Regions from separate parts of the Homo sapiens genome. Here region 2 is linked to region 1. The links come from fine-mapping of genetic effects on gene expression. A gene starts in region 1. The other region holds a variant in brackets. All regions are shown on one strand. Distances are from middle to middle.

Evidence for each region. PIP is the estimated chance that this variant, and not a neighbour inherited with it, causes the effect.
Region 2: its variant is the best candidate, but not a certain one, in a credible set for the expression of SPMIP8 in tibial nerve (GTEx, PIP 0.85).

Annotation. Positions count from the first base shown.
Region 1 is chr16:57,971,761-57,983,882 of GRCh38, reverse strand. It overlaps SPMIP8 (sperm microtubule inner protein 8), which reads right to left and starts at 7,339. Exons shown (of 8, transcript NM_199456.3): 1 at 7,249-7,339; 2 at 5,844-6,068. The coding sequence starts at 6,066.
Region 2 is chr16:58,006,071-58,019,064 of GRCh38, reverse strand. It overlaps USB1 (U6 snRNA biogenesis phosphodiesterase 1), which reads right to left. Exons shown (of 7, transcript NM_024598.4): 3 at 8,953-9,136; 4 at 4,739-4,792; 5 at 1,626-1,731; 6 at 10-93. Among named protein-coding and RNA genes, the nearest start is that of USB1, 11 kb to the right of the region's middle. RefSeq lists enhancers at 5,790-6,321, 6,322-6,854. The variant C/T (reference allele first, on the strand shown) is at 9,463.

The sequences.
Region 1 (12,122 bases):
CCAGCACTTTGGGAGGCCAAAGCGGGTGGATCACTTGAGCTCAGGAGTTCGAGACCAGCCTGGGCAACAAGGTGAAACCCTATCTCTACCAAAAATACGAAAAATTAGTTGAGTGTGGTGGCACGCGACTGTAGTCCCAGCTACTAGGGAGGCTAAGGCACGAGGATCACTGGAATCCAGGAGGTGGAGGTTGCAGTGAGCTGAGATTGCGCCACTGCACTCCAGCATGGGCAACAGAGCGAGACTCTCTTAAAAAATTTTTTTTTAATTTGACAACTTAAAAAAAATCTAAGATAAAATAGTATTCACATCTTACCTTTGCAACAGAATAAAACTCCAAAGATTCCAATGTAAAAAGTGAACATGGGCAAATTCTTTTATAATCTTGGGATGGGAAAGGCCTTAATAATTTTAATTAAAAATCCAGAAGCTTTAAAGAAAAGATTGATAAGTTAAATACATAAAAATAAACTTCTACATGGCAAAAACAAATGTCAAAAAACAAATGGAAAAAATATTTCCACTTATTTTACAGATATTAATATTAATTAATATTCCTTAATATTGAAAGAGTGCCTAGAAATCAAGCAAAACAAAAAATGCCAGGTATGGTGGCTCGAGCCTGTAGTCTCAGCTACTCAGGAAGCTGAGGCAGGAGGATTGCTTGAGCCCAGGAGTTTAAGGCTGCAAGTGAGCTGTGATCATGCCACTGCCCTCCAGCCTGGGTGGCATAGCGAGACCTTGTTTTTAATAAATAAATTAACAAGTTGAGGAATTTCTCTATACAAGAACTCCAAGGTGCAGATGGGTATATACAATATGCTACCATTTGCTTTAAAAAAAATTTTTTTTTGAGACAGAGTCTCGCTCTGTCGCCCAGGCTGGAGTACAGTGGCGCGGTCTCGGCTCACTGCAACCTCCGCCACCCAGGTTCAAGCGATTCTCACGCCTCAGCCTCCCGAGTAGCTGGGATTACAGGTGCGTGCTACCATGCCTGGCTAATTTTTGTATTTTTAGTAGAGATGGGGTTTCACCATGTTGGCCAGGCTGGTCTTGAACTCCTGACCTCAAGTGATCTGTCCACCTCAGCCTCCCAAAGTGCTGGGATTACAGGCGTGAGCCACTGCGCCCGGCCTACTGTTTGCTTTAAAATGGTAGACTAAACATAGACTGTTGGAAACAGAGAATATATATTCAGGTCATCACCTTAACCAAATAATCAAACTTAGCATCACAAATAATGTGATAATGAAATTCTGTGCCTCCTGCTGCAGCATTATGGCAAACACGGCATCTGTCGCCTGTGAAAGATTCTGGCCAGCAGTGTTTAACCTGGTGATTCAGATCTCTACACCTAGCTGCTGGTTTACAGAAAATAGATTAACAAGATAAGAAACACCATGAAGAAACAGTGGCTCAAATTCACCATATGGGACTGTCTACAACACAACTGTTAGAGACTTTAAAAAGTCAGTATGATGGTGGGCAATGGAAACTGGGTGGACTGTTTTAGACTAAGACAAAAGACATAACAAGTAACTGAAATACGTAATCCTAGATTGAATTCTTGTTCCAAAAAATCATTTTAAAGCCAGAAAAGACATCTTTGAGGGCAATTGGGGAGATTTTAATATGGTCTGGATATTAGATGTTGTAGAAGTATTGTTAGCTTTCCTAGGTGTGATAATGGTATTGTGTCATGTAGAAGGATGTTTTTGTCATTGGGAGCTGCTTGCTAAAGGGTGTCCAAGAATGTAAGAGAGAGGGCGAGAGAAGCAAAAATATGGCAAAAATCAACTGAAGCAGGAGGAAGGTGGTGGGTACTCATAGTAGTATTCTTTCAACTTTTCTCCATTTGAAAATGTTTATCATGTAAACTAAAAATAAAATCCTGAGGTCTCCGCAATGTATTGACTGAGCGGACCCCCCTCTTGGCTAAGGGGATCCCCCAAAACCTTGAAAAACTGAGTTCCCAGCCATAATGGGACAGGAGGTCAGACATGCTTCATTCCACCCCTGCCTTTTTGCGGTTTAGACACAATAAATGACCAGCATTAATGTTAAACTAGCAATCACAAGGCCAGGTGCGGTGGCTACGCCTGTAATCCCAGTGGTTTTGGAGGCCAATCACTTGAGGTCAGGATTTTGAGACCAGCCTGGCCAACATGGTGAAACCCCATGTCTACTAAAAATACAAAAATCAGCTGGGCGTAGTGGCACACGCCTGTAGTCCCAGCTAGCTACTCAGGAGGCTGAGGCAGGAGAATCACTTGAACCGGGGAGGCGGAAGTTGCAGTGAGCCGAGATAGCGCCACTGCACTCCAGCCTGGGTGACAGAGTGAGACTCTGTCTCAAAAAAAAAAAAAAAAAAAAAAAAAAAAGAGAAAGAGAGAGAGAGAGATTACAAGACTAAGAGAACAGACTCTTTGTGGCAATAAGATACCAAATTATAATAATAATAATAATAATTATTATTATAATAATAATAATTATTATTATTATTGAGACGGAGTGTCACTCTGTTGCCCAGGCTGGAGTGCAATGGCGCGATCTCGGCTCACTGCAACCTCCGCCTCCTGGGTTCAAGCAATTCTCCTGTCTCAGTCTCCCAGTAGCTGGGATTACAAGCACACACTACCACACCTGGCTAATTTTTGTATTTTTAGTAGAGACAGGGTTTTACCATATTGGTCAGGCTGGTTTTGAACTCCTGACCTCAGGCGATCCACTTGCCTTGGCCCCCCAAAGTGCTAGAATTACAGGCGTGAACCGCCACGCCCGGCCAAGATACCAGATTATTAACAGGACCTAAGGCCATGCCAGGCAAGGGTTAAGTCACGCACCCCTACACTTAAAGAATAAACTACAGGCTGGTCGTGGTAGCTCACGCCTGTAATTCCAACACTTCGGGAGGCTGAAGCTGGAGGATCACTTGAGCCCAGAAGTTGGAGACCAGCCCTGGCAACATAGTGTAACCCTGTCTCCACACAAAACAAACAAACAACAACAACAGCAACAAAAATAGCCTGGCATAGTGGTGTGTGCCTGTAGTCCCAGCTACTCAGGAGGCTGAAGTGGCAGGATCACCTGAACCTGGGAGGTCGAGGCTGTAAAGAGCCATGTTTTTGACATTGCACTCTAGCCTGGGTGATGGAGAGAAACTCTGTCTAAAAAAACAAAACAAAACAAAACGAAAAGCAAAACACAAAAATAAATAAGCTATGTTTTAATTGCCATGAGGTTTTTCTTTTTCTCTAGCCCTGGACTTGAGATAAGCAATATTAAAACAATTACAACTCATACAGCTCACAGATGCTGATGAACTGACCCCCTGATCCACCAGCCACAGCTATGCCTTTGATTGCATAAGAGGCTGATTTCAGTAACTTTCTCCAGGTAAGAAGACCACCAACCATGGACTGGTCCTGCCCAGCATACAGAGGCTGCTCACTTGCTGGGCTTCGCGTCCTGAAAAGAACTTTTGACGTATAGGGACTAATTGTAATACATTTAAAGGTTAAGTCTCCACCTCAAAGCGAACATGGGTTGTATGTTACATGCATGTTTGTTCAATATGCCCATGTCAGTACTATCTTCATGAATATTCATAGCTCCTCCTATAAACTATTGAATATGTATGTTTAGCCAACCCTTTGAACATAAAGCTCTTACCCAACCCCTCCTCCTTTGACATGCCTATCTTTGGGCTTAAGCTGGAGGCACACTTTCCAGCCTGTGGGATGGCCACCTGGCAGCTATAACCCCTTGTAAGAAATAAAGTCTCCTTTTCTAAACTTATACATTTATTTTTATTTTTTGAAGATGGAGTCTCGCTCTGTCACCCAGGCTGGAGTGCAGTGGCTCCATCTCGGCTCATCGCAACCTCCGCCTCCCGGGTTCAGGTGATTCTCCTGCCTCAGCCTGGGAGCTGGGATTACAGGCACCCGCCACCCCGCCCGGCTAATTTTTGTATTTTTAGTGAAGATGGGGTTTCACCATGTTGGCCAGGCTGGTCTCGAACTTCTGACCTCACGTGATCTGCCTGCCTTGGCCTCCCAAAGTGCTGAGATTGTGGGTGTGAGCCACCGTACCCTGCCTAAATTTACAAATTTCTGGGTTTTCAGTTAACAGTAATAAAAAGTTGGGGAGCAAAATAACATGTGTTTATATTCCCATTAGTAAACCAGGGAGAGACATCAGAAACTAAGAATGTGGTGGGGGGGTGGTTACCTGTATGCGGGGGCAGTGGGAGTGAGCCTTGTTGCTGTGCATATTGTTATAGCATTTTGAGCTTTGAAGTTCTGACTATTACTTTTACTTAAAGCATATGCTTACAATAAAATACATATCTACATCAGAGCTTTCCTTAAAAATCTAGATTCCTGGCTTCTCTCAGAAGCGGGAAATTGGAAGAACTGGTGACCTGGCTGGCCCCTCCAACATAGCACAGTCTGTGGGGAACCCCGTGGCTGCCGTTTAAATAGGGCAGGTGTGGGTGCCCCTTTTCCCTGTGGAGTGTTCCTTCCCCACGGCCTCCCCACCCACTTCCCTCACTTGTGTTTCCCATTAGGGCCCATGTGGCAACTCTGGTAATCTCCGTGCGGTCTCTGACACCCTCAGCCCACCTGTCACCCAAGCTGGAGCCTAGGTATGGGCCTGCACTCCCCCTGTTTGGCCTCCTACCCTGCCCCGCCTGCACCTACTCCTGTTGACTTTATCTGCTAAATACCTTCTAAATCCCTCCACACGCAAGCTCCTCAGTCCATGCGGGGTTATTCACTAGGCCCGTGGGGCTCTTTTGCCCTGAAGGCCCACACGTCTTCCTCTCCTGCATGGGGGCTGTGAGGAGAGGTCTTTCTCTCTCTTTTCCACATACAGAGATGCTTGGGCAGAAGTTACTACTGTTATGACTCCTACCACTGCACCTGTCAACCTCTGCCCAGTTCTCTCTCCATTAATTACAACAGGCTAGGCACAGTGGCTCATGCCTGTAATCTCAGCACTTTGGGAGGCCAAGGCAGGAGGATCGTTTGAACCCAGGAGTTGAGACCAGGCTAGGCAACATAGGGAGACCCTGTCTCTACAAATAATTTTTTAAAATCAGCAGGGCAGGGTGGCACGTATCTGTGGTCCCAGCTATTCGGGAGGCTGAGATGGGAGGATCATTTGAGCCTGGGAGGTCGAGGTTGCAGTGAGCTGTGATCATGCTACTGCACTCCAGCCTGGGCGACAGAGTAAGACACTGTCTTCAAAAAACAAAACAACAATAACAACAATGGCATCAGCAATACTTTTTGAGCACATATTATGTGCCAGGCACTACTCTAAGTGCTTTTTTTTTTGAGACGGAGACTCACTCTTGTTGCCCAGGCTGGAGTGCAGTGATGTGATCTCGGCTCACTGCAACCTCCGCCTCCCAGGTTTAAGCAATTCTCATGCCTCAGCCTCCCAAGTAGCTGGGATTACAGGTGCCTGCCACCACGCCTGGTTAAGTTTTGTATTTTTAGTAGAGATGGGGTTTCACCATGTTGACCAGGCTGGTCTCAAACTCCTGACCTCAGGTTATCAGCCTGCCTTGGCCTCCCAAAGTGCTGGGACTGCGCCCAGCCTCTAAGTGTTTTTTGTGCCTTATCTCCTTCTAACCCCACAACAACACTTTGAGGTAGGCCTTGTCAATTATCCTCATTGTACTGAGCAGTAAACAGAGGCTCAGACCTGGCCAAAGTGTCCTGGGCAGGGAGCAGCAGAGCTGGGACTGGCCTCTTTCATCCTTGCATCTGTCTCCCTCTTTCCTGAAACCATCTGCCCCTTCCCCAAAGGGGATCCTACACTGGTGTCCTAACCTTTGCGGCAGTAGGTGGTGGACTGGCAGTGCTCATCAGGAAGGCAGGCCTTGACGGTGTCCCTGTCCATGTGGCGCAGGGTGGGCAGGGCTGGGTGGTAGAGCTGCTGCTTCACGCCCGCCAGCTGGTTGCGCTGCCGCTCCATGGGAAGCAGGATGGCCGGGGAGGCATACACATGTGTGGAGCCATCGTCCCAGGGCACCAGGTCAATGATGCGGGCCATAGCTGGGGGGCAGAGGGTTCTAAGGGGCTCACCCTGGGCTCATGCTGGCCAGACACCCTTCTCTGCATGAAAACAACCTTGGCCAGTGCCGATGTCTACTTGCCAAACATTTATTTAGCACCTACTGTGTGCCAGGCCATTTTTCTGGAGCTCAGCATGAGGTGGCAGGAACATTCAGATAACAGAAGATAACAGAGACAACCCTCCCACTCCCCTTCCAACACACACATACACACACACACACACACACACACACTCACATTGTGCCATGGCTGTGAGGGAGGTCAGTACAGAGTGTGTGTTTCTGGGGAGGCTGGGGTTAGGACATTCAAGGAATGGTCTAAAAGAGGTGGTATTTGAGTCTATTCGTTTTTTTTTCTTTCTTTCTTTTCTTTTTTTTTTTTTTTTTGAGACAGTCTCACTCTTCTGCTCAGACTGAAGTACAGTGGCGCCATCTTGGCTCAATGCAACCTCTGTCTCCTGGGTTCAAGTGATTCTCCTGCCTCAGCCTCCTGAGGAACTGGGATTATAGGCATCCACCACCACATGTGACTAGTTTTTGTATTTTTAGTAGAGACGGGGTTTCACTGTGTTGGCCAGGCTGGTCTCGAACTCCTGACCTCAAGTGATCCACCCGCCTCAGCCTCTCAAAGTGCTGGGATTACAGGTGTGAGCCACCTTGCCTGGCGAGTCTATTCTTAAATAATAAGCAGGAAAGTGCAGCAGCAAGCGGGTTCAGAATGTAGCTTAGTATGCCGTATACCTCTGGGTGAATAATTATGGACTTGCCCTAGCTATTTACCCAAAATTCTACAGATTGACTCAGAAAGATTTTCAGGAAGGGGAGCAACATGATATATTTAAACTAGAAAAGCATTACTGGATACCCAGTGCCTCCCTTTAAAAAGCAGATAGTCCCAGGAGCCTTTCAGTCATTTACACTTTAGTGAGAATTTGTTGAGACAGCTTGCTTTCTTCCTGACCCTGAGTTAGAGGTGAGAGGTGGAGGTGGAAGCTAGGGTGGCAGGAGGAGAGAGGACCTTAGATCATGGAGGAGCAGGGAGGGGGCATGGTGACAAGGCATGGGGAAGCTGCCTTAGGGGATGTGACTGCCTGGGGAGGGACAGGGAGGGGGATCACGGATATGGGGAAGAGAGCAAGGGCTCCCTGCTTCTGACTCACCAATAGCAGCTACCTTATCTGTAGGGCCCAGGCCCAGGTGCACAGGCTTATAAGGACTTTCAGTTCTTTGACTGCTCAATGGGCAGAAGAGGAAGGGAGGTGGACGAGCCCTTATTATGGACAGCAGCAGAATAAAGGAACATTGTGCACAGACAATGCCCATTGCAGCCTGATTCTGAGGCACCCACTCCTTAGCAACCCTGGCAACTACAGGCTCTAACAAGAGCCTGTGCCAGAATTCCTGTGCTCTGGCCACTCCCTTCCAGCCTTCCTGAAGGCTGTGGTCTCCCAGGCCTTAGCACAGGCCAGGCATCTTGGGAAATGTCAGATGGGGAGCTGGGGTTCCCTGGAGGTAGTCAGGCCAAGGCAGGCCAGAAATGGCTACTGAGCCCACTGCAGGCTGTGTAATCCTGGGCTAATTACCGCCTCTCTCTGGGACTCAAGGCTCTCCTCTGTGTTAGGCAAGGACTCTAGGATCTGCCGTTAGGAGGATCTGGATGCTGAGAGGGATCTCCCCTCCCTGGAACCCTCAGGGAAGAGGGCACTGCACTGTCTGCCAGCCCTTGAGTCTCCAGGAGTGGAGATTAGCTGTGGCCAGTATCCAGGGTAAGCGTGAGGGGATCAGGGAGAGTGGTGGACTCAGCAGGCCAGGGATTAGCAGATGATACTCCACCCTCAGCCCCTGCAGGACTGCAGGCTCCCAGAAAAGCCAGGCTGTGAGTGCCCAAGGCCAGCACCCCAAAGCCCTGGGGCCTGCCCACCATCCTGGTCACAACCATTAGAGACAGACCCCCAAGGTGAGGAAACCCCAGGAGATCCTAACTTATTTGCATATATTGGCATGTGCTTTTGCATATACCTGCCCAGGGGCTGAACCTGATGGGTCTTGGAGCCCCTCCTGTGAAATTCTTGTAGGATTTGTTTCCCCAGTTGCTCCTCCTCCAGTGCTCCATACAGCTTCCAGAACAGCATTCCTAACTGCTACCCCTTACAAAAAACCTTCCCAGAGTTGACTCCACTCACCACCCCACCCCCAATTTATTTCTTGACTCTTTTAAAGTTATAAAATAGAAGAAATACAGAAAGTGAATAAATATCTAATGTAACTAATAATTTACAAAATGAGACCCCGTATAACTACCACCCACCCTGGTCAAGACATGGAGTACTACTTTTAAAACAGTTTATCAGTTTCTTAAAAAATGAAACAGAAATGTACCATATGATTGGGTCATCTGGAAGATTCTACCCCAGGAGGCTTCCCAAGAGAAATGAAAGTATATTGTGAGGCACGATGGCTCACACCTGTAATCCCAGCACTTTGGGAGGCTGAGGTGAGCAGATCACTTGAGGTTGGGAGTTTGAGACCAGCCTGGCCAACATGGTGAAAACCTGTCTCTACTGAAAACACAAAAATTAGCTGGGCGTGGTGGTGCAAGCCTGTAATCCCAGCTACTCAGGACGCTGAGGCAGGAGAATCGCTTGAACCTGGGAGGCGGAGGTTGCAGTGAGCCGAGATCGCAGCATCGCACTCCAGTCTGGGCGGCAAGAGCAAGACTTCGTCTCAAAAAAAAAAAAGTATATATCTTCACAAAGACTTGCACACAAATGTTCATAGCAACATGATGTATCGCCAAAAAGTGGAAACAACCTGTGTCCACTGATGAGTGGATAAACTGTGGTGCGTCTATACCATGCAATACTCTTGGGCAATGAAAAGAAATGAAGTTCTGATACAAGCTACGAGGTGGATGAACCTCATAAAACATTACGCTACATCAAAGAAGCCAGATGTGAAAACTCACATATTGTATGACCCATTTATATAAAATGTCCAGGAAAGACAAATCTATAGACGCAGAAAGCAGATGTGTGGTTGCCTGGGACTGGGGTGTACGAATGAAGAGTGGTTATCATCTGGTGTGAGGGGTCTTACTGGGGCAACGGGAATGTTCTAAAACCAGATGTGGCAAGAGTTGCACAGTTCAGTCAATGTGTTAAAAATCATGAGTTAGGCCGGGGCGGTGGCTCACGCCTGTAATTCCAGCCCTTTGGGAACCCCGAGTGGGTGGATTGCTTGAGCCCGGGAGTTCGAGACCAGCCTGGGAAACATGGCGAAACCCTGTCTCTACAAAAAATATGAAAATTAAATGGGCATGGTGGCATGTGCCTGTGGTCACAGCTACTTGGGAGGCTGAGGTGGGATAATCACTTCAGCTCAGAAGGTCGAGGCTGCGGTGAGCTATGATCACGCCACTGCACTCCAGCCTGGGTGATAGAGTGACACCCTGTCTTAAATAAATAAATAAATAATAAGTAATATAAAAGTCATTGAGTTGTATACTTACCATGGGTGAATTTTATGGCATATATATTCCCATAAGCTTGTTTTGAAAAATAGATGCCAGCCAAGTTAGTAAAAGAAAGCAAGACATTGGCCCTGCCAGTCCCTAGAAGCTTCCACATACACCTTCCCAATTACAACCCCCAACCCAGCAAGAAGGAACCACTCTCCCATCTTGTAGTACAACCTGTGCTTTTATTTATGGGCAACTATGGAAAACTTTATTTAACAACTCTAGGCTTTATAGAAAACTAGAGGTGGCAAATGTACTTGTGTTTGTAGCCATAGACAGGACAGACTAATTTTGCCTTTTGGGAATTTTGTATGCATGGATCACTGGGGTCTTCTTTTGAATCTGGCTTCTTTCTCTCCATATATATGCACATGAGTTTCATCCAAACTTTAGCCACTGTGTGTGGCTGTGTTTTGCTCATTTTCCCCACCCTAGAGCCCACTACTGTTCCCTCAGGCTCATCTAATTTTCCCTCCTTCCCACTCTGCAGGGGCTCCAACTGCCTCTAAGTTGCCCAATCTCAGGACGCATTTCAAGTCTCAGCTCAGACAGTGGCCCCTTGGATCATTCCCTCACCCCAACACAGCCACTACTCTTGGCTTTCACCTCACCCCATGCTTCTGCTTCTCCATCCCCATCCCTGGCAGCTCCTTCAGGCTCCTTTACCAGCTCCTGCTCTTTTTGCATCCTCTGAGTGAGCCCGTGTTCCAGGTGCCACCTCTGGTCATCTTTGTTTCCTTGGGTTTCCGAGGTGATATCAGTCAGTCCTGTGGCTTTAAGCATCATCTGCAAGCTGAGGCCTCCAAAATTTCTATCTCCTGTAGACCTCTCCCTAAGTCTCACACACACACACACACACACACACACACACACACACATTTCAACCTGGATGTCTCTCAGACTTTTTTTTTTTTTTGCTTAGGCTGGAGTGCAGTGGTGTGATCTTGGCTCACTGCAACATCCACCCACCGGGTTCAGGCAATTCTCCTGCCTCAGCCTCCAGAGCAGCTGGGATTATAGGCACCTGCCACCACACCCGACTAATTTTTGTATTTTTAGTAGAGACGGAGTTTTGCCATGTTGGCCAGGCTGGTCTTGAACTCCTGACCTCAGGTGATCCACCTGCTTTGGCCTCCCAAAGTGCTAGGATTACAGGCGTGAGCCACTGCACCCAGCCTCTCTCAGACATCTTAACAAAGTAGTGCTCATGATTTTCCCTCCAAAATTCTTCCTCCAAACTTCCAGCCTCAGGCTTCTTCTTTTCAGTACATGTGTAAACCAGCCTGGGGCGGTTTACTGGTTCACCCACTAAACCAGCTACCCAGTTTCCCAGGGTGAGCCCCTCAATGCCCGCCTTTTTCCTCCCCTTTCCCTTCTATCTGTACTCCCACCAGCATAGTCCAAGCCCCATCATCCCTCCCGTCAGGCTGCAGGCAAGGGCGAATGTCACCTGTGTTAGTCTCAGGCCCAAGCAGAGCAGAAGGGCTTGCTGCTGTTCCTTGGGGAGGAGCTCTGACCCCTGCAGCCTGGCATATTTGTAGGGAAGGGTCAGGGAGTACATTGAGCTTTACCGTTGGGGTCTGGCCTTGCTGGCAGAAAGAACTTTCTTGTGAATCACTTGCCATGTAGAGGTTGCATTATCAGAGGTCTTGAAGCCCAACACTGGAGGGGAAGCCAGGGGTCATCCAGTCACCAATCAGCTTGTCCCTCCGCAGCCTCCTGACCAGTTTCCTGTTTCCATGCTTGCCTGCTACACAGAGCCACACAGATCATGCCCAGCCCCTGTTCAAAACCATCATCTAAAACTACACTCCTTCCTGTGGCTTACAGTCTCACAACATCTGCCCCTGCCCTCTGTCAACCTCATCTCCCACCACTCTCCCCTGCACCCGTTAAGCTCCAGGCTCCCCGGTTCCCATTCTGCTCCTCAAGGCTCATTCCAGCCTCAGAACCTTTCTCGTTGCAGTGTCCTTGGCCTGGAGCACCACTCACCCAGCTTTTTTCACAGCTGAGTCTTTCTTACTTTTCATGTCTCAGTTCAAATATACATCCACCTCGTCATAGGGGCCTGCCTACCTGCCCCTACTGCCCTCCACAACATGCTTCTGCCCTGTTTGTTTCTTTTATGGCACTTAGCATAATTTGCAATATTCTTTATTTGTCAGTAATCTCCTCCATTGGAATGTAAGCTCCATGAGGACAGGGCCTATGTCTGTCTTGCTCAGTGTGCCAAGGCTGGCACACTGCCAGGCACAAAGGAAGAGCTCTAGGCCAGGTGCAGGGGCTTACATCTGTAATCCCAATACTATGAGAGGCTGAGGCAGGAGGATTGCTTGCATCCAGGAGTTTGAGAGGTTGAGGCTGCAATGAGCTGTGATTGCACCACTTCACTTAGCCTGAGTGACAGAGAGAGACTGTGGCTTAAAAAAAAAAAAAAAAAAAGGAAAGGAAAGGAAAGGAAGAACTCTAGAAATGGTGCGGATAATTAAGTCAAGTCCTGCCCTTTGCCAAATATCC
Region 2 (12,994 bases), 35 kb before region 1:
GAAATTCACCTGTAGTTCCTGCAGGCACTGCCCCTCCAGCTGGAGACGTGCATCACCCACACACCAGGCCAGGCTGAGGTGGAAAGAAGGATCCTGGGGAGGGAAACGAGAGGCAGGCAGTCACCCGGACGCCTTGGCAGGCCCTGCCCTCACAGCAGGTCTGTGACAGAGCTGTCGTGACATCCCTGCTGGATCCCTGGCCTGCCCAGTGGGAGACAAGATACTCAGTGTTGATCCCAAGCACCCTCCACAGACAGACAAAACAGCACAGGACTGGTCCTTGCTATGGACTGAATCGTGTCACCTCCCCCAAATTCATGTAGCCCTAACCCCCAATGTGATAGTATGTAAAGATGGGGCCTTTGAGGGGTAATTAGGGTTAGATGAGGTCATGAGGGCAGGACCCTCATGATTAGTGCCCTTTAATCACAGAGAGCTTGGGCACTGCTCTCTCTCTCTGTAGCCCCCAACCCCTGCCCCGCCATGTGAAGGCGGCCATCTATATGCCAGGAAGAACCCTCACCAGAAACCGACCACGCTTGGCCGGGTGCAGTGGCTCACACCTGTAATCCTAGCACTTTGAGAGGCCAAGGCAGGCAGATCACCTGAGGTCAGGAGTTTGAGACCAGCCTGGCCAACATGGTGAAACCCCGTCTCTACTAAAAATACAAAAATTAGCTGGGCGTGGTGTTGTACACATGTAGTCCCAGCCACTTGGGAGACTGAGGCAGAATTGCTTGAACCTGGGAGGCGGAGGTTGCAGGGAGCTGAGATTGCGCCACTGCACTCCAGCATGGGCGACAGAGTAAGACTCTGTCTCCAAAAAAAAAAAAAAAAAAAGACATCAACCATGCTGTCACCTTGATCTTGGACTTCTAGCCTCCAGAACTGTGCAAAAATAAATTTCTGTTATTTAGGCCACCCAGTCTATGGTATTTTGTTATGACAGCCTGAGCTAAGACAGTCGTATTCACAGAGGCTTTCCCTGAAGTATCAGAGGGTCATTACATCTGTGACATGAAAGAAAATCCACCCTCTATTCTGATCTAGGACATTCCAGTATACACCATACTTTTCAGATGACATGAACAAAATCCCCAAAGTCTCAAGTTTTGAAGCAACAATAATTGTCTCCATTCAAATTCATACTTATCTCCCTCAGCACGGTTTAAAAACATATATCAAATAAAATGAATGGCCCTTCAAAGCCCTGAGAGTCGACTTAGAGTCCAAGTGCCCTTGGAGGGCCTGGGCAAGGTGCAGGAAGGTGTGTGAAGCTACAACTCCTCTCTGAGGGTCAATCTGACCAAAAATTATTAGGGACATCTACTTAAAAAATGTGAAAACAACACGGGAACATTATGGAGCAGAAGGTACAAATCTCGGGCGTATTTAGGATATAAAGCAAAATTTCTAAGAAATGTTGGACTTTGGGTGGGCTGCATCTGACTACACCTCAAAGCCCTCACCCCCCGAGGTGTGCATCCTCAGAAGGCTGGCATTCAGAGCACCGACACGGGAGGTTCTGAAGGGTCTTCGGTTTGCCTCTTACGAGGGCTTCTTTAAAGACAGTTTTATTCTCATTAGAAATGGGTCAATGGAGAAGCAGCAGCCCCATTCATTACCTGGTAGAAAGTGGTGAGGTTGAATTCCTCCATGACTCTGTCCACCTCTGAAACCAGGTCCAGGAACTGGGCATGCCCTGAAGTGACCTCAAGCCCAATAAAGGTCCTGGGGAGAGGAAGACAACGCAGGCATGAGATGTAGCCTCTGAGAACACAGCCATCTGCGCAGCCGAGCAGGAGCCAGGCAGAAGGCCAAGAGGCCTGGGCCGTGGGTCTCACCGTCTCCCTGGTACACTCGCTTTCCTGCTCCATGAGCCAACTCTCTCAGTCCTCAGATTCTCTGTCTGTAAATCTTCCTTTCCCAGTTCTCACCCACACAGCTCTCCTCCCTTCTCTGGATCTAATAACCCTTCCAGGAACGCCTTCACCCACCACTGCCAAGTCACAAACCCAGAAGCTTCTGCACCCCCATTCTCCATCATCATTCCAATCGCAAATGACTCCTGTCCTCAAGGAGGCCTCTTCTCGAGGACTTTGCTCCCAGGCATCTGCCACGCCTCCCACAAGCACTCAGGCATGCTCTCTCATCTTTAAAAACTCTCCCCTGAACCCACGGTTTCAGCACGTCCCCATCCCATTCTCAGTGAAACTTCTCAAAAAGACCATTTGTCCACCATCACTATCTCTTTCTCACCTCCCATCTTCAACCCACTTTGCTGGGAGTCCTCTTGTCAAAGTTGCCAACAACCTCCACGTTACCAAATCCAAGGGACACTTCGCTGTCCGCCTCGTACGCACCCAGCAGTATCTCACACAGTGGACTCTTCCCTCCTTGAAACCCTTTTCTCTCTTGGCTCCCAAGACATCACCTGCCACGCAGTCTTGGTTTAATCCTGCCTCCTGTCTCCCGGTTCAGTGTCCTCTGCCACCCTCTCTCCTCTCCAGCCTCCCCGTGGTGAAGATCACTGGATCTTCTCCATCTGCACTCTCCAGGAGGCTGATCTCACCCAGCCCCGCTTCCCACACAGGCCAACACTGCCCACATTTCTATCTCCAGCTGGTCCCTCTCCTGAACACCCAGTTGTATATGTGACATTTCCACCTAGGGGTCCAATAGATAGCAAAACCTAGCAGGTACAAACAAACAGGTACAAAGCAGCACTTTTGCTTTTCATCCCACCAGTGTCTCTTATCACAGAAAACGGGGCCAGTTGTTCTAGCCTCAAACCCAGGAATCAATGTTCGTCTTCCCCTTGCTTCACATAAATCCAACCCATTGGTAATTTGGTTGCTTCTGCCTCTAGTGTATCTCCAATGTGTCCACCTCTTGGTCTTCCATGGCCATCACCCTAATCTAGGCCACCAATGGTCCCTCACCTGGACAATGACACCTGGCTCCTCTCTGGTTTCCCTGCATCCACTCTTGCTCCCTTCTATCTTGCCCCCAGACTCCATGGCCACAGACACACCACTAGCCAGACTGACATCCCCAGATATAGATCAGGTCATGCCTCTCCTCTGTTCAAATCCCTCCAATGGCTTCCATTATACTGAAAATTCAAACTCCTTACTTGAGCTTGCAGCCCCTGGATGGGCTAACCCTACCCATCTCATCTCCTATCATTCTCCCTCGTGCTTTCTGGGGTCTGCCTCACTGGCCTCCTCAAACATGCTGAAATCTTCCCTGCCTCGGAGTCACTTAGTTTGCTATGTCCTCTGCTTGAAGCTCTTGCAACAGCTCTTCCCAAGGCTGGCTTCTCATTCTCAGGTCACCATCAAATGCCATCTCCCTGGCCACTTCCCTGGTACCCTCCTGGACTACCCACTCCTGACCATATCACACCACAGTTATTAACAAACACTCTCATTACTTGTTTATTATCTGTCTCCCCTCTGAATATGAGATTGAAAAGAGCAGGGGCTGTGTCTACCTCTTCACTGATGAATCCTTAGTGTACAGCAAATGCCTGGCACAAGTGGGTGCTTAACAAACTTGTGCAGCATGGAATAAATGAATGAATAAATGAGGCCCCTTTCAGAAGTGCTCAGAGAAGGTGGCCCAGTGAGTGCATCAGACAGGGAGGCTCGCTTTGAAGGCAGGATAATCATTTCTTCTTATGTTCATCTAACACTTTAATACTTTTAACTTTTCAAAGGCCTTGGGGCTCATTTGAGCCTTACAACTGCCCAACAGTGGATGTTGGGAGGCGTGTGCCAGTGTGAAAATGAAAGGTCACAGAGATGAAGACACGGACTAAACACCACAACTGGGATGGAGCTGGGCAGAAACAGGTTTCCTGACTTTCACAGGTTTTCACTAAACCAAGATGCTTCTCTCAATCTCTGGGCACCACCCCACTACATGCTCCTCCAGTCATTATTTATTTATTTATTTATTTATTTATTTATTTATTTATTTTTGAGACAGAGTTTCACTCTTGTCACCCAGGATAGAGTGCAGTGGTGTGATCTTGGCTCACTGCAACCTCCTCCTCTAGGGTTCAAGCGATTCTCCTGCCTCAGCCTCTCGAGTAGCTGGGATTACAGGCGCCTGCCACCACACCCAGCTAATTTTTTGTATTTTTAGTGGAGATGGGGTTTCGCCATGTCAGGCAGGCTGGTCTCGAACTCCTGACCTCAGGTGATCTGCCCACCTTGGCCTCTCAAAGTGCTGGGATTACAAGCGTGAGCCACCGCACCTGGCCTTTTATTTTTTTGAGACAGGGTCTCACTCTGTTGCCCAGGCTGGAGTGCAGTGGTGCAATCTTGGCTCACTGCAGCCTCGACCTCCAGGGCTCAAGCGATCCTCCCATCTCAGCCTCCCAAGTAGCTGGAACTACAGGCACACACTACCATGCTCAGCTAATTTTTGTATTTTTCATAGAGACACGGTTTGGCCATGTTGCCCAGGCTGGTCTGGAACTCCTGAGCTCAAGCTATCCACCTGCTTCAGCCTCCCAAAGTGCTGGAATTACAGGCATGCGCTACTGTGCCTGGGATCTCCCAGTTATTTTTCTTAAAGAAAGGTTCAGATTTGGGGATAGCTGCCTTTATAGTCATAGAGTTGGTTAAAAGCAAACAAAAAATGGGACAAACAAGTCCAGAAACAAAGCACTCAATTTTTGCACCAAAGAATCTTCCTCTGATGGTGATTGGGGGTTGGGAGGACCCACCTGGTTTTCTCTTGATTGGTGTAAATCTTTACCTGGTTGGCAGTAAAGAAGAATCTGAAATTTAGAAGACCATATTTCAGGAAAAATCGTAAGAAAAAAAGCAGAAAAAATAGCTTATGTTAAAAAAAAACAGCACTTTGAAAATATAGTTAACTCATTTTGCACTTCATATTATCACCCCATTATGCAGGTGGTATACTGAACCTTAAACATTAGAGCTGGACAAGACCTTAAAATCACCCAGCCCGAGTAACACACAACATCATCCAGGTGCTAGTAAAAATTTTACTTTGTTAATAGCAGTTCATTTCGATAAACAATTTGAGACTATCTCAACTTCACTGATGGGAACTGAGAAAGCCTTATTGATCAAGTAGGTGATAATGGACCACTTAACAGCTGATTCATTTCTTGCAGTTTTTTAAAATAGATGACTCCGATTTCATCTAAGCAATCACGACAACATTTCTTCGTGTGTCAGGGCTGAGCTCAAGCCTTTGCACACTCTGTTTCTCGAATCCTCACACAACTCTGTGAGCAGGCCTACAATTATGCCCATTTTACAGACAAAGAAACAGAGGCATGGTGAAGCTGAATTTGGTGAGCCAGGATTGGAACAGTCAGTCTGCCTGTTTCCAGAGTCCTTGTTGTCACCTATGACGCTTTCGTGAGGGGAATAGGTCTGTTGGTGTGAAATCGAGACAGATGCCCCCACCCACCCACCCCTCAGATCAATAACACGGGAAGAGTCAGGCTCAGCTAGGTAAGTGCTTTGACTTGGACTGGTTCTGTCCTTTATTCTCTGAGACACTAGCAATCTCACCATGGAAAGTCTCCTCACAGAAACAGATCATTTTACAGCCCCCAGGCCAAGGGTCTCACCCCCATCTGAGGGAACATAATATACCAGCATGCTGGGTAGAGCCTCACAATCTGCCCAAGGGCAAAAGTCAGTCAGCCAACTCTCTGCCTCTGGAGAAAATGTAAGGGATCACAGAACCACCAGGAGCTTGGTTAAGTGCAGCTTTTAGGAAGAGTTCTCAAGGTGTCTCCCAAACATCCTGGAGTGGACACTGGATGTCTGTGCCCAACCAAAACTCCTTCTCCTGGTAACCTCGTGTTGCAGGATGGCTCTCCACCCCTACTCCAGAGGCAGGCTGCCCAGGCCTGGCCAAACAGAGCTTAGCATTTCCTCAGTCACAGCAACAGAATCAGGGGTGCACCGCCCACTCTTGGTCACCTTAGGCTCAACCAGATGATCAAAGTTGAACAGACCACACCTGCCCGGGCTTCACTCATGACACAGATCCTTTCCTCAGAGGGAACCAGCCCAGGGGTCCAGGTGCTGTTTTCTAGTCTCTCAGTGAGCAAGGGAACCAGCCACATATACATCCCACAGGGATCAGTATTTCTTGCAATGGACTTTAGGCAGAGTTTTCCTAAGTCCCAGCAAGGGACTCGTGCCCAGTTAAGGAACCACTGTATGCAGGGGAGCCCAGGCCGTGGCTTCCCTGGAGGGGTGCAGTTCATGCTGTCTTCCTAGCGCAAGTGCAGTGTGCCAGTCATCAGCACTAACATAGCCGCTCTCCTCCTTCATCCAGGGGCAGAGCTTCCGCAGGATAAGGGAAGCACTCTCTGTGGAAGGGGGAAGGGCCTGTTAACTCTTTACTCCCAAAGAAAGCACACAGGAGACGGGTCAGACCAGGCAGTCATTCCTGTGACTTGTGCTGAAGCCAATCAGAGAGGGAGGCTGTCTTTCCAGGCTGGTACACCATTAGCCGGGAGATGCGGTGGCTTCGTCATTGTGACAAAGGAAGGGGACAGAGCTGAGATGGTGAACAGTCTGCCTGTGGTGGTGACAGTCAGGTGCCATCTGATATCTTGTCACCCCGGTCCACTCATGCATGAGCCAGTGCTACCTCTGAATCTTTTAGTTATACCAGCCTATAAATTTCTCTTTGGTTTAAGCCACTTTGGGTTGGGCTTCTGGCATGGGCTTCTGGCACCTGTGGTTAAGAGAGTCCTGATAATATACAATCAATCAACTTGATAATGACAATCCAAAGAGGGGGAGGGCTGGACTAGGTTGAGAGATGAGTTTCAGCCCTTATTCCCTGGCCGAGTGTCTGGATTGGGACAAATCCTGTCCTCCTCTGGCCCTCAGAAGGGGTTCAGCTAACTGAGCAGTTTCCTAGTTGGGCAGTGACATCCTATGGAATTCCTGGGCCTATGGCCCCCTGAACTGTGGGAATGGGGCTTTGGCTAGAAGACTGTTTATTTCTGTTTTACACAGCCACACATCAGGCTTTTGTGCAACACCTCATTTGAAAAAAGGCTCTGCTGATAAAGGCAGGGTCAGAAAACCATCAGCCGGGTGGCTTCTTAGGCTCCTTCTAGTATCAACAGTAGAGGATCCAGAAAGATATTCTCTAGGCTCCCTCATTCCCGCACCATGACTCAACAAGCATCTATTTGATGTCTACTGTGAGCAGAGCACTTGGAAAAAAGCTGTGGGGCAATTCAGAGAGAAGCCACAGTCCTGGCCTGGAGGAATGTGGGCTCCAGGAAGGAAGATGGACACAGGAACGACTGCATATGAGGGTGAGTGAAATGACCACCAGGGGTAAAGAACCACAGGACCAACTGATCTCTGGATGGAGGGGTCACCTGTGAAACAACCACAGGGCCAACTGATCTCTGGACGGAGGTGTCACCTGTGAAACAACCACAGGACCGACTGATCTCTGGACAGAGGAGTCACCTGTGAAACAACCACAGGACCGACTGATCTCTGGACGGAGGGATTCTGCAGGATATGCCAACCGGGAGAGCCTCAGTGAAAGAGCAGGGTTTTGATCTGGACCAGTCTAGCAGGAGATGCATTTCTGGTAGGAAAAGAGTTATGAAATAATCTAATAGGTAAGGGGAAAAAAAAAGCCCCAGGCTGGCAGACAAAACCAGAAGTGGGGTCTGGTACTAACCCTTCACCCAAGTGGTGTGCTGAGGGCACCCATGATCTCCTTTCACCCCCATAGGCCCCCAGTGAGGTAGCTCCCACCATTACCATGACCTGTTTGACCTATCACTGTGAAATGATAACATATGTGTTGGTCTCAGCCTCCAGTTCCTGACACAGAGATCCTAAAACCTGTGTCATTTCCTAAGCAGCAGGGGTGCTAGGAGCATCTTTTGTTCTATTATCTGGTCTGTGATCCTGGCTCCTGACGCAGAGCTCCTAAATCCTTTGGAATTTCCTGGGTGACAGGGGCATCTTTGGTTCCAATGAGGCAATGAGGTCCTGGATGGGGGCTGATCACAGAAAGAGCAAGGCATGATTAGAAGCTGGGAACTTTCAGCCCCACCCCCTACCCTCCCGGTATGGGAGGGAAGCTAGAGACTGAGTTAATAATCCATCATGCCTATGTGATGAAGCCTCCGTAAAAATTTGGAACTACAGGGTTTGAGGAGCTTCCCTTGGTGATTAAGAACGCACCCATGTGCTGGGAGGGTGGCTCACTCCCAACTCCACAGGGTCAGAAGCTCCCATGCTCGGGACCCTTCCAGACCTCACCCTACCTATCTCTTCATCTGGCTGTTCATGTGTATCCTGTAACATATCCTTTGTAATAAACTGGCGCCCTAGTAAGTGGACTGTTTGCCTGAATTCTGTGAGCCATTCTAGCAAATGATCAAACCTGAGGAGAGGGTCCACAGAACCTCTGATTTGTAGTGAAATCAGACAGATGTTGTGGGTAACCTGAGAGCTCAACACTGCAGATGGTGTCTGACAAGGAGCGCAGTCTTGTGGGACTGAGTCCTTAACCTATGAAGTCTGCACTAACCCTGGGTTATTAGTGTCAGAATTGAGTTCGATTATAGGACACCCAGTGGGTGTCTGGAGAGTTGGATAATTTGTTGGTGTGGAAAAAAACTCAACACATCTGGTCACAGAAGTGCTGGAAGTACTGAGCAAGAGCTTACAGAAAAACAGCTGGCTTTTCCTACAGAGCAGATACGGCATCAGGGGTGTCAAGAGCTTCCACGGCATGCCCAAGGTCACGGAGGATGAGAAGTAGAGCAGGCAGCCCCAGGAGAGGGGCCGTGTTCTATCTTTAGGTCTGCCTGCCTGCTGGGGTAATGCCCGCAGTAGCTCAGGAGAGGAGGAGAAGCCATGGAGGGGAGGGAGTGGAGAGGCAGAGGGAAGAAGCACTCACCTGTGGAAGGAGGTCATACGGGCTTTCAGAGCCTGCACGAAGGGGAGGATCCAGTGGTGGCGCAGAACCACACTCTGGGACAGGCTGAGGTGGAACACCTTCATCCTTACCAGCCGGGGGACATATGTCTGGGCATGGGGCAGCAACACATCAAGCAGATCCAGGAACTCCTCCTTGGCTTCATCTGGAGGGGAGGAGTAAAGAGGGCGGGCCGTTCTCTCAGCCAAGGTGCCATGGCTGAATGAAGAAGCCCAGAAGGCAGAGGGAAGTCCTTATTACTCTGGGTTTGGGGAGAAAATTACTTGGACAGCAGCCTATGTCTATGTCTTCTAATATAATTTTATTTTCATTTATTTATTTATTTATTTATTATTATTTTTTTTTTTTTGAGAAGGAGTCTTGCTCTGCCGCCCAGGCTGGAGTGCAGTGGTGCAATCTCGGCTCACTGCAAGCTCCGTTTCCCGGGTTCATGCCATTCTCCTGCCTCAGCCTCCCGAGTAGCTGGGACTA[C/T]GGGCGCCCGCCACCACGCCTGGATAATATTTTTTTTTTGTATTTTTAGTAGAGACGGGGTTTCACCGTGTTAGCCAGGATGGTCTCGATCTCCTGACCTCGTGATCCGCCCGCCTCGGCCTCCCAAAGTGCTGGGATTACAGGCGTGAGCCACTGCGCCCAGCCTCCAGTTTTTCTTAACAAGGTCTACCCTCAGGAGAAACTTACTGAATTACAGCCTAACCTGAAAGTGTTTTATCAGACTCTTAACTGACCTAGGGGAAGTGAAATACCAAACTGCAGCACCTTCTGGTCATCCTGTCCCACCTAGGAAGGGGAAAATTCTGAGAAGCGTGTGGGAAGTTCCCAGTCCAGAGGAACCGGCTCACCAAAAGATTGACACCCAATCACAGGACTACAGAAGGATTCTTGTCCCCCACCACCTCACCACCACATTCATACAGGCCTGTTTACCACAGTTCCTTTTACATAGTACTTCATGTCCAGCTATCGAGGAAAAATTACAAGACATACTAAAGGGCAAAAATACAATCTGAAGAAAAATAGTAAGCATCAGAACCCCTTAAATATAAAAGACTAGAAACCATACAATGTCTGATCTCAGGCCACAATGAAATTAGACTAAAAGTCTGTAACAGAAATGTAGCTGGAAAATCCCCAAATACTTGGAGATTAAAAAACACACTTCTAAATAACACACGGATCAAAGAAGAAATCTCCAGAAAACTTTATAAATATTTTGAACAAAATAAAAATGAAAACATAACTTATCAAAACTTGTGGAATGCAGCAAAAGGTGCTTAGAAGAATATTTATAGCATCAAATGCATATATTAGAAAAGAAGATCTAGGCCGGGTATGGTGGCTCACGCCTGTAATTCCAGCACTTTGGGAGGCAGAGGCAGGTGGATCACTGGAGGTCAGGAGTTCGAGACCAGCCTGACCAATATGGTGACACCCCGTCTCTACTAAAAATACAAAAATAACTGGGCACGGTGGTGCGTGCCTATAGTCCTAGCTACTTGGGAGGCTGAGACAGGAGAACCACTTGAACCTGGGAGGCGGAAGTTGCAGTGAGCTGAGATTGCGCCACTGTACTCCAGCCTGGGTGACGGATCGAGGCTCCCTCACAAAAAAAAAAAAAAAAAAGAAAAAGAAAAAGATCTAAAGTCAATCATCTGAGTTTCATCTTAGGAAAGTAGAAAAACAACAGCAAATTTAATCCAAAGTAAGCAGAAGTAAAGAAATAATTAAAATTAGAGCAGAAATCAATAAAATTGAAGACAAGAAATCAATAAAGAAAATCAATAAAACCAAAAGCTGGTTGTTTGAAAAGATCAGTAAATCAACAAGTTTCTAGCCAGGCTAACTAAGAAAAATAGAGAGGGCACACAAATTACTAAAATCAGGAATGAAAGATGGGACATCATTACAGATCCCATGGATAATAAAAGGATAATCAAAGAATACCATGAATAACTTTATGTCCACAAATTTGATAACCTAGATGAACTGGAACAATTCCTTGAAAGACCCGATCTGCTAAAACTCACAAAAGAAGAAATAATCTAAATAGGCCTAAATCTATTAAACAAATTGAATTATTATTATTTTTTTTTTGAGACAGAGTCTCACTCTTTTGCCCAGGATGGAGTACGGTGGTGCAATCTTGGTTCACTGCAATCTCCGCCTCCCAGGTTCAAGCGATTCTCCTGCCTCAGTCTCCCGAGTAGCTGGGATTACAGGCACCCGCCACCAAGCATGGCTAATTTTTTTGTATTTTTTTAGTAAAGACAGGGTTTCACCATGTTGCCCAGGCTGGTCTCAAACTCAGGCAATCTGCCCGTGTTGGCCTCCCAAAGTGCTGGATGATAGGCGTAAGCCACTGCACCCAGCCTGAATAAATAAATAATTACCTTCCGGCTGGGCTCTGTGGCTCACACCTGTCATCCCAGCACTTTGGGAGGCCAAGGTGGGTGGTTCACCGGAGGTCAGGAGTTTGAGAACAGCCTGGCCAACATGGCGAAACTGTGTCTTTACTAAAAATACAAAAATTAGCCAGGCGTGGTGGTAGGTGCCTGTAATCCCAGCTACTCATGAGGCTGAGGCAGGAGAATAGCTTGAACCTGGGAGGCAGAGGTTGCAGTGAGCCGAGATCATGCCAGTGTGCTCCATCCTGGGCAACAGAGTGAGACTCTGTCTCCGAAAAACAAACAAACAAACAAACAAACAAAAATTACCTTCCAAAACAGAAGGCACCAGGCCCAGATGGGTTCGGTTCACTAGAGAATCCCACCAAACATTTAAGGAAAAAATTAAACCAATTATCTATAATCTTTCAGAAGACAAAAGCAGAGAGAATACTTCCTGACTTATTCCATGAGGCCAGCATTATCCTCATACCAATACCAGAAAAAGACATTACAAGAAAACTACAGACCCATATCTCTCATGGACAGAGATGCAAGATTTTCAAGAAAATATTAGCAAATTGAATACAACAACATATAAAGAGAATAATGCTCCACAACTAAATGGGATTTATCCCAGGTATTCAAAGCAGGCTCAACATTCAAAAATCAATTAATGTAATCCATCCAATCAATAGGCTAAAGGAGAAAAATCAAATGATCCTATCAATAAATACAGAAAAAGTATTTGACAAAATCCAATACCCATTCAAGATAAAAACTCTCAGAAAACTAGGAATAGAGGGGAACTTTGTTAACTTGATAGAGAATGTCTAAAAATACCTATAGCTAACTGATAGGAAACTCCAAAGCTTTCCCATTAAGATCAGGAACAAGGTAATGATGCCTCCTCTCACTATTGCTTTTCAACTCATACTGGAAGTCCTAGCTAATGCAATAAGGCAAGAAAAGGAAATAAAAGGTATACAGATTAGCAAAGAAGAAATAAGCCTGTTTTTCTTTTTTTTTTCCCCAAGACAGAGTCTTGCTCTGTTGCCCAGGCTGGAGTGCAGTGGTGCACTCTCCGCTCACTGCAACCTCCACCTCCCGGGTTCAAGCAATTCTCCTGCCTCAGCCTTCTAAGTAGCTGGGATTACAGGCATGTGCCACCATGCCCAGCTAATTTTTGTATTTTTAGTAGAGATGGGGGTTTCGCCATGTTGGCCAGGCTGGTCTTGAACTCCTGACCTTGTGATCTGCCCGCCTTGGCCTCCCAAAGTGCTGGGATTACAGGTGTGAGCCACTGTGTCCGTTTTTTTTTTTTGTTTTTTTTTTTTTTTGAAACGAGGTTTTGCTCTTGTTGACCAGGACGGAGTGCAATGGTGCAATCTTGGCTCACTGCAACCATTGCCTCCTGGGTTCAAGTGATTCTCCTACCTCAGCCTCCCAAGTAGCTGGGACTACAGGCATGTCCCACCACGGCTGGCTAATTTTGTATTTTTAGTAGAAATGGGGTTTCTCCATGTTGGTCAGGCTGGTCTTGAACTCCCAACCTCAGGTAATCTGTCCACCTTGACCTCCCAAAGTGCTGGGATTACAGGTGTGAGCCACCACACCCAGCG